Linked DNA regions of Homo sapiens: region 1 is linked to region 2. The links come from fine-mapping of genetic effects on gene expression. Tissue or cell type: esophagus mucosa. Region 2 holds a variant in brackets; the other region holds the start of a gene. All regions are shown on one strand. Distances are from middle to middle.

Region 1 (4,238 bases), 51 kb before region 2:
GTGCTGTTCTAGACCCCTTCTCTAGAAACATTCACACATGCATACATAGTCACATACTGGACTGTGCTGTTCTAGACCCCTTCTCTGGAAACATTCACACATGCATACATAGTCACCTACTGGACTGTGCTGTTCTAGACCCCTTCTCTGGAAACATTCACACATGCATACATAGTCACATAATTTTGTATACAATTTCAGGGACGGTTAAAAGTATCCTAATTCCCATCCATGGACCCTAGACCCAAATTAAGAATCTCTGAATTAGGAATTTCGTAGTTTTCACCAGGCCCAGCATCTACCACACCATCATTGCACAGGTGGGGAAACTGAGCACCACGTCCTCCTCCAGGCACAGCCAGCTGTCTTCTGGGGGTGAGGGGGTGTCTGGCCCTCCCGTACTGGAGTGGGGCGCTGGGGCTGGGGTCACCTCAAGGAACGTGTTGCTGCGGCTCTGCCTCCCTAGGTTCCCCCAGCGGATCCCGGCGGGCGTATGGGGATGACAGGGGCAGGGAGGTTAATCAGGACTCCTAAGGTCCCAGGATTCCTCTGGAACGGGCCTAAACAATGGAGGCCACCAAGGACCAGGGAAGTTCTGGTGGGTGGGCTTCAGGACAGACAGTACAATCCCAGCCTTTCCAGTCACCAGCTGGGTGATTCTGTATTGCTTTGTCTGTGACCCACTTGAAATGACTTGTTCTTTGTAGTTTTCTACATATTACATTTACTTCTTTCCCCCCCACCCCTTTTTTTAAAGAGACAGTGTATCACTCTGTCACCCAGGCTGAAGTGCAAAGGTGCAATTATAGCTCACTGCAGCCTTGAACTCCTGGGCTCAAACAATTCTCCCACCTCAGCCTCCTGAGTAGCTGGGACCATAGACACGTGCCACCATGCCCCATTAATTTAGAAAATTTTTTTGGTAGAGATGGGGTCTCAACATGTTGCCCAGGCTGGTCTCCATTTCCTGGCCTCAAGCAACTCTCCCTCCTTGACCTCCCAAAGTGCCAGGATTACAGGCGTTAGCTGCCATGCTCAACCACTACATTCATTTTTTTATTAAATTTTATATCATGCAAATGACAGATATTTCCACCCAAATAATGTTTACTTGTTCATAGACCATTAGATTCCTGTTTTGGCCAACTCTGAAATAATACATTTTAGATCCACTTGTAGTATTTTAAGATTAACTCAGTTTCATTTGCTTTGAAAAACAACATCATCGCTGTTCAACTGTTTACAGAATTGATGGTAAAATGACTGAATTCATGTCATTTTAGGAGAGCGTTCAGTGCTAATGTGTACACTGAATGCTTTAAGCGGTGAGGTGGCTTCACAAAGTTTACTTCTACAATTTTCATAACCTAAGAATCTCCTGATTGGTCTCTTTTACTTTTATTACAAAGTCTAATTGAAATCCCCTAAATTCTTAGGGCCCGCCGCATGGAGGTGAGGGGCTTGTGGTGGGGAATGTCCAGACCCCTGTGCTGCTCCCTGGAGCTTGCTCAGGTCAGGTGAGGAGGATACACTAGCCCGGGCCTGTCACCACGACTGCTCTTGTTTTCATCCCCTGAACTCCCTGCTGCACAGAGCTGCCCAGGAGGGCTGGCTCCTTGCCTAGTCTCAGGTGCTCAGCCCTCCTCCTCTAGAGGCTGGCCCTGGCTCCAGTGGAGCTGGGGGTTTCCTCAGCTCTACCCCCACCCCATCCTCTGCCCTCAGCCTCAGGGGAACCAGCTTCCTGCCACCACTCCTGGGACTCGTCTGCCTCCCCCTGGCTGCATCTTCTGTCCTGAAACTCCAGGTCTGGAAGAGGTGCTCCGCCTGCAGGTCCTGGAGCCCTGCCAGAGGTTTCTGGAGATGCTGGTTGACCCAGCCTCTTGGGGAAGAGGGGCAGGTGCAGGGCTGAAGGAGCGACCTGGGGGTGGAGCCCCAACCTGTTTATAGGATCGTGGCTCATTGAAGGCTGGCAGATTCATGCTGGTCCTATCCCACTGGGACCGTCGCTGCCACTCAGCCAGAGAGCCAGCATCTTGGCAAGGGCTGGGCCTGGAGTGAAGCTGGAAGGGCTAGCATGGAGAGCCTGTCACCTGGGGGACCACCTGGCCACCCTTACCAGGTAACAGTGTCTGCAGAGCATGTGGGCACCAGTCAGGGCAGGCCTGGAGCCAGGGTGCATTCTGGGAAGTGTGATAGCTGGAATCAGGGTGATTTCAGACTGGGCCAGAGGGCGAGGGAGTCTGAGATTTGGGATGCAGAGTGGGTGGGGTGGGTGAGCAGCATCCGTAGATGCGGGGGCTGGGAAACGTGAGTCTGGTCAGCAGAGCTTCCTCTCCCCACCACCAGCGACCACAGCAGTGTCCTTAGGGACCTCTCCCCCACCATCATCGGAGAACATAGTGGCTGGGTGTGTCACAAAAGGAGACCCACCAGGCCCACAGCCCCACCACCACAGGCCGGCAGACTTCCCAGAACTGGCTGGAGCCCTGGGATCACCCTGTGTGTCTCCAGAGCTCTGGGGGCCCAAATCCCCATCCACTGCCAAGTATTTAGTAGGCCCAAGAGCTGTGGGGCTGCATCCAGGCCAAGGAGGCCTGCAAACTTCTCGCCACCCCCCCACCCTCTGTCATGTGTTTCTCCAAAGCCCAGAGTTTTCATCCTCTGCCAGGGACCAAGGCCAGCAGAGCTGGCTCCTGAGGTCTCCCCCCGGTGCCCCAGGTGGTGGCCAGGAATGAGGCTAAGTGTGTCAAGGTCACTGTCCTGAGGTCCTTTGCCTCATATGCAGACCTCGCTGGGCTTCTAGAGCTGTGGCCCTGAGACCCAGGCCCAAGCTGGATCCAGACAAGCAGCTCCAGACTGGTGCTCCTGGAAGAGGCTCAGCCTGGGGCAGGGCAGACACTAAGGAGCCCTGGGGGAAGATGAGAGGGACCCCTCAGTGAAGGACCACACTGTTGCCCCAGCCTGAGGTCAGGTGGATCCACCCACGAGTCAGACATCAGCGGACATTTGGATGCGGGGGAGTCCACGGATGCAGGCCAGTGGAGGGGCTGGCGGCCCTGGCTCCACCACCCGTCCCATCAGGAGCCCTGAGCCCAGAACGGCCCATTGTGGAGGCTTCTGGAATATTTCCCCCTTTAAACTCATCTCCCTGGCGAAGGCTGTGCCCCTTTCCCCTTTTCCCTCAGCCTGCTCTAGGTCTAGCTCCTGGGTAAAACAAAAGCCTAAGTGTCAGCAATTTGGGAGCCTCAGTCGGCCCCACACCTGGAAAGCACCTCGCCTCCAGCTGGCATTCACAGGACTGAGTCCCCAGGACCAGGTCCTCAAGCTCCAGCCTTCAAGTCGGTTCCTGTGGTTGGCAAGCTTCAGCAGCGGTTTAGCCTAGCCTCATTTCTGCTGGAACAGGGGCCTGGAACCTGCCCCAGAGCGGGACCTGGGCCAGCAGGCTAGGCTGGCCATCCGGGACCTGTTCTGGAACGTGCCTGCCGTGTGGTCCAGGAGACTCAGCCCAGCCTGAGGGAGGTGCAGGGCCTGGGGCTGTGCCCAGGGGTTCCACTCCTCTTCTCTCTGACCTCCTGCATTGCCCCACCACAGGGCGCCAGTGCCAGCAGACGACAGGGTGGGTCTGCTCATTTCTCTCTTCCTGCCGAACACCCAGGATCACGGGCAAGGATACTCTGGACCCCAGCTGGGGAGACCCAACCCCCTTAAGCTCTCTTGGGCCACATCTCCCAAGATGGGCACGGGGCAGCACAGAGCCTCTCACAAAACTTCCTGGCAAACGTGTGCCCTGGGCCTCTCCACCGGAAGAAGGATGGCCCAGAGCCTCTGGGGTCCCTGCGCAAGGTTCAGAGTGGCTGAGACCCTCAGCAGGGAGGCATTCGGGGGATCCTACAGGTGACTGGGCTGACGAATTTCCTCCAGAAGCCTCCGGGTTAGTCATCAATTAAGGAGGTATTTCAGATGGGAGGAGCTTTCAGAAGGGAATGTGACGCCCCTATGCCCTCAGGGGAAAAGATTCATATCAGTTAAAGTGTCGGTTATCTCAGTAATCATATTAGTCAAATCTGTGACAAATCTATGAATATCTGTTAGTCAAATTAGACAAATCTATGAAAATCTAGTGTCTAGATATCCTAGATATCCGTGGGGCAATGAGGGAAGAGTTGCATGCTTTTCCAAAGAAGCAAAAGTCCTGGGAAGGTAGAATAGACGGGGGTTGTGAGCTCTGGCCTGGAAGT
Region 2 (4,238 bases):
TGAGGCTGGAAGCAACCCATGAGAAAGTGGTGTCCTGGGAGCCAAGAGACTTTTTCCATAAACATCCCGTTATCTTTCTGAGCACAGAGCAGGTGGTCAGTAAATACTCTCAGAAAGCACAAGCTCTGCAGCTGCTTGTTCATGCCTTTTCATCCCCCGGCACTGCCGTGGAGTGCCGGTGCTGCCTGGGTGGCTGGCTGCTGGCCTGGGAACCTAACAGCTCCCTACTATCTCTTGCATCTCATGAGAGGCAGAGGCCTCCGCCCACTCCAGGGGCCCCACCCCACCCCATCCTCCCGGTTTCACACTCTTGGCCCCCAGCTCATGCCCTTCCCTCTCAGCAGGGCTTGCCCTACTCTGTGCCACCCACGTGGAGTGAGGCAAGCTCATTCCTACTTCTTTCCCCAGTTCTGCTACCTCCCATCGTAGAGGGTCTCCCTTCCCCAGCTGCCACCTTTCCAAACCTTGCCCCTAACTCAAGGCTCAGCCCCCTGAGACTCCCCACCGGCCTCCACGTGGGATCTTGACAGCCTCCCCTTCAAGACCAGCCCTGTGTACCTTCACCTGCTGGGTCACTGGAGCCCACTGGATGCCCTCATATCTAATCTATCCTGCCGGGTCACTGAAGCCCACTGGATGCCCTCATATCTAATCTATCACCATGCCGTGTAGGTTCTGCTCAGAAATACCTCTCGAGTCCACCACTGCTTCCATCTCTGCCCCCTACCCGGGCCCAAGTGACCATTTGCTTCCCATCTGAGCCACTACAACACATCTTCCTGTCCCTGTCCTGCCCAATTCTGTCCCCACCCAGCAGCCAGATGATCTCATTCACATCACTTCCTTTCTTTTTTTTTTATTATACTTTAAGTTTTAGGGTACATGTGCACAACATGCAGGTTTGTTACATATGTATACACGTGCCACGTTGGTGTGCTGCACTCATTAACTCATCATTTAGCATTAGGTATATCTCCTAATGCTATCCCTCCCCCCTCCCCCCATCCCACAACAGGCCCCAGTGTGTGATGTTCCCCACCCTGTGTCCAAGTGTTCTCATTGTTCAGTTCTCACCTGTGAGTGAGAACATGCGGTGTTTGGTTTTTTGTCCTTGCTTAATACCCTTCGGTGGCATCCAGTTTCTTAAGATAAAATCCCAAATCTTGACCATGGCTTCCAAGGCCTCTCTGACCTCATCACTCCTTCCTCACCGTGCCCCAGACACAGGTGCTCAGTTTCTGAACACGCCAGCCTTTTCCACTCCTCAACGCCTTGCACTGCTGTACCTTCAGCCTGGGGGACTCTCCCCACAGCCCGCATGTAGCTAACCCCGATTTTCCTACAGGTTTCAGCTTCAAGGCTGCTTCCTCTGGGAGGTCATCCCTGACGTCTCCCCAAATCAGAATCCGTTCCCGTCTTTCGTAGCACCCTGTTACTTTCCTTCCTGATTCTTATCGCAGTTGATGGTTAGAAATTATTTTCTTTCAAAGCTACTTCACTAGAAGCTTCCCAAGAGCAGGCACCATGTTGATTTTGATACTCGGAACCTGTAGCACAGTGCCTAGCATTTAGGAGGTGCTCAAATGTCTC[T/C]GTCATCAGTGAACAAAGCTTTCACTGACTTCTCCAGCCCATGCCAACCTTGAGGTTCTTTGCGGTCCAAGTACACTTACGGTTAGTTCTTTCCAATTTATTTGTCCTGTAGCAAAAAGAATAACAGTAACCATGACAATTTATTAAGGTTTATGACATGCCAGATTCTGTGTGCCAGATGTATATGTACGGTGTTTATGTATATATAATATATAATCTTTACAACAATCCTGTGAAATCAGTACTATTAACTCCATTTTACAGATGAGGAAAGTGAACAGTGAGTTTCAGAGAGATAAAGTAATTGCTGACTGCTGCCCCAGTAAGTGCCAGAGCCAAGATACGCACTCGGGTCTCTCTAACTCTAGATCTCCTGCTCTTTCCTCTACATTTGTCTTATGGGTCTTGCCTGTGAACTTCTGTTGTTGTTGTAAGCTTTTTGTCACTGGCCTCTTTGGTTTGTGGTTGTTTTTTTTTTTTTTTTTTTTGTATCCTCCATCACCATGCTCCCTAAATACCTACCATTTGTGAGGATGTGTCTATTAGCAGGTGAGAGCCACCCAGGACAAGAGACTCCATGTTCGCATCAGACTTGCCCCACGAGATGAGTTTCAGGGCTGGTTCTGAGAAAGGCCGAGTGGATGGCCACCCACAGGTCCTGACCTACGGGTGCCCACAGGCCCACCTTCCTCACATATTTCCCTCACTAGGCCAGGCTGGCCCTTCCCTGTTCCCTCCTCCCTGCCTAGTAAAGTTCCCACCGTCAGAGCCACCTACCTCTTAGGCAACAAAGGTGGGCCTGGCCTCCGGAAGGCCTCTCCCACATGCTTCCAGCAGCTGACAGGGTGAGCAAGCTGTCTTCTGAATCTGGGGCATGGTGGGATGGAGAGTAACAGACTCTCAAAACTGGAACAGATCATTAGGTTTCCAGAGCCACCCCCGCTTGCCCAGTGTAGGAGTCTCCTCTGCACCTTCCAGGCAGGAACCCCTTGCATAATTCTAAGAATGGAAGCTTATTACCTTCCAAGTGACTAAGTTCTTTCTTACACCAAGGTCAAATCTACCCACTCAGAAAGGCCCTATTTCCACCATCAGGTCAGGCACAATATCAGTCTAACCCTTTCTGGTGCTTGACTGCCCTTTTCATACCTGAAGTTGCCTTCCTTGCTCTATAGTTTCAAGCCCCTGCTGGCCTGGGCTCCAGTATCTGCTTCAGTCACATTTTCAGTGAGCCACGGCTCTGCCCCCTTCCTTGCCCAATGAGTGGATGTTTCACCCAAGGCAAAGAGAAGGATCTGGTTGGTGGGCAGATGGCCAGCTGCTTAGTAGAAGGAAGAAAGGGCTTCCCAGCTCTTGAGAAAAAATTCCTTCCCTGGGTGGGTTTGCCTGACCCCACCTCAAGCTACACCTCCTGCTACTCCCAGAGGATGGCCATGGGAGAAGATACTTTTAACAGAGCTGACATATATAAATATCTGGTATGGTGGCCTGGGACATGGTAGGCATGAAATAAATGTTAGCTTTCTTTCCCTGTCTCTAAATGCATTTTTTGCTTTATTTAAAGAGCAACTTTATTTATAATAATGTTCTTTTTACAAAATTGTTCTTCTGATTATAAATAATATATGTATTCAGTATAGACATTACAAAATTTGAAAAATGTAATAGAGAAAATAAACATTGCCAATAACATCATCCAGAAATAACTTCCTGAACCCTTAATATACTTCCTTCCAGTCTTTTTTATAGGCACATATATTTAGAAATAAATTTTCTTTATATATACGTATATTGATATATGTAAAATTAAGCTCGTATTGTAAAACTTGTCATTTCTACATATCAGTGAATAGTGATTAATTTTTCTCTGCTATTAAAAACCAGATTTTTGAAAATGGCTACATAACATAACATCATATCATCTAGGTTGTTTCCAATTTCTGATGCTATGACCATTTGGAGTGTGCTATGAACACCCAAAAGCCTAGAAAATGTCATTGATATGCAAATTACAATGATTCCTCTCCACTCCTTGTCAAGTTGGCAGAGAAGTCAAGATTTCCCTCCAAATAGCCCAGAGAATTCGCATGGCCATTGTCCCCGTCCATGAGACAGACCCCCATCATTTGTCTGCTGACTTGAAACTTTACAAAAGCCTCTCTGCTGATTTGCCCAGGCTAAAGAATGCATCTGCCCTGTCAGGAGCAATGAGGAGGGTCCCTCAGCAAAGGGACCTGGTGACCAAGTGTCTGTTGATAATGATGCAGCTCTGTCCCTCCACACACACACACAGAGCCAGTTCCCCTCAAAGAGACCCACGGTAGCAAAGTGAATAAGCATGAAAGAGTGGTTCTGATAAGGTAAACCCCAATACTCAGTACAGGACACTGGTCTAAACTTCCCTCTTCTTTAGGGCATATTTCCTCTCTGGAACTCCCAGTGTCCTTCCTTGTCATCTGACTTCAATGGGTCTCCTGGGGAGGTCTCTTTAGTTCATCATATACACTGCAATAACTTGAATCCTCAATGAGGAGTCCGAGTCCCAACCTCTTTCCCCAACCCCAGGAGGCTCGTCTGCTCCTATGTAAATTTATGGATGCAACTGGATTCGTAAGGGAGGATGCTGCCCAGCTCCACTCACCAGTATC

The links. PIP is the estimated chance that this variant, and not a neighbour inherited with it, causes the effect.
Region 1: PLA2G4D starts here. The variant in region 2 is the best candidate, but not a certain one, in a credible set for the expression of PLA2G4D in esophagus mucosa (GTEx, PIP 0.62).

Annotation. Positions count from the first base shown.
Region 1 is chr15:42,092,296-42,096,533 of GRCh38, reverse strand. It overlaps PLA2G4D (phospholipase A2 group IVD), which reads left to right and starts at 1,972. Exons shown (of 20, transcript NM_178034.4): 1 at 1,972-2,119. The coding sequence starts at 2,075. RefSeq lists enhancers at 2,173-3,147, 4,122-4,238.
Region 2 is chr15:42,041,405-42,045,642 of GRCh38, reverse strand. LOC105370793 (a long non-coding RNA gene) reads right to left here and starts at 2,816. Exons shown (of 3, transcript XR_932177.1): 1 at 2,740-2,816; 2 at 2,368-2,457; 3 at 1,053-1,696. It also overlaps a transcript of PLA2G4E not described here. RefSeq lists a silencer at 135-295. The variant T/C (reference allele first, on the strand shown) is at 1,591.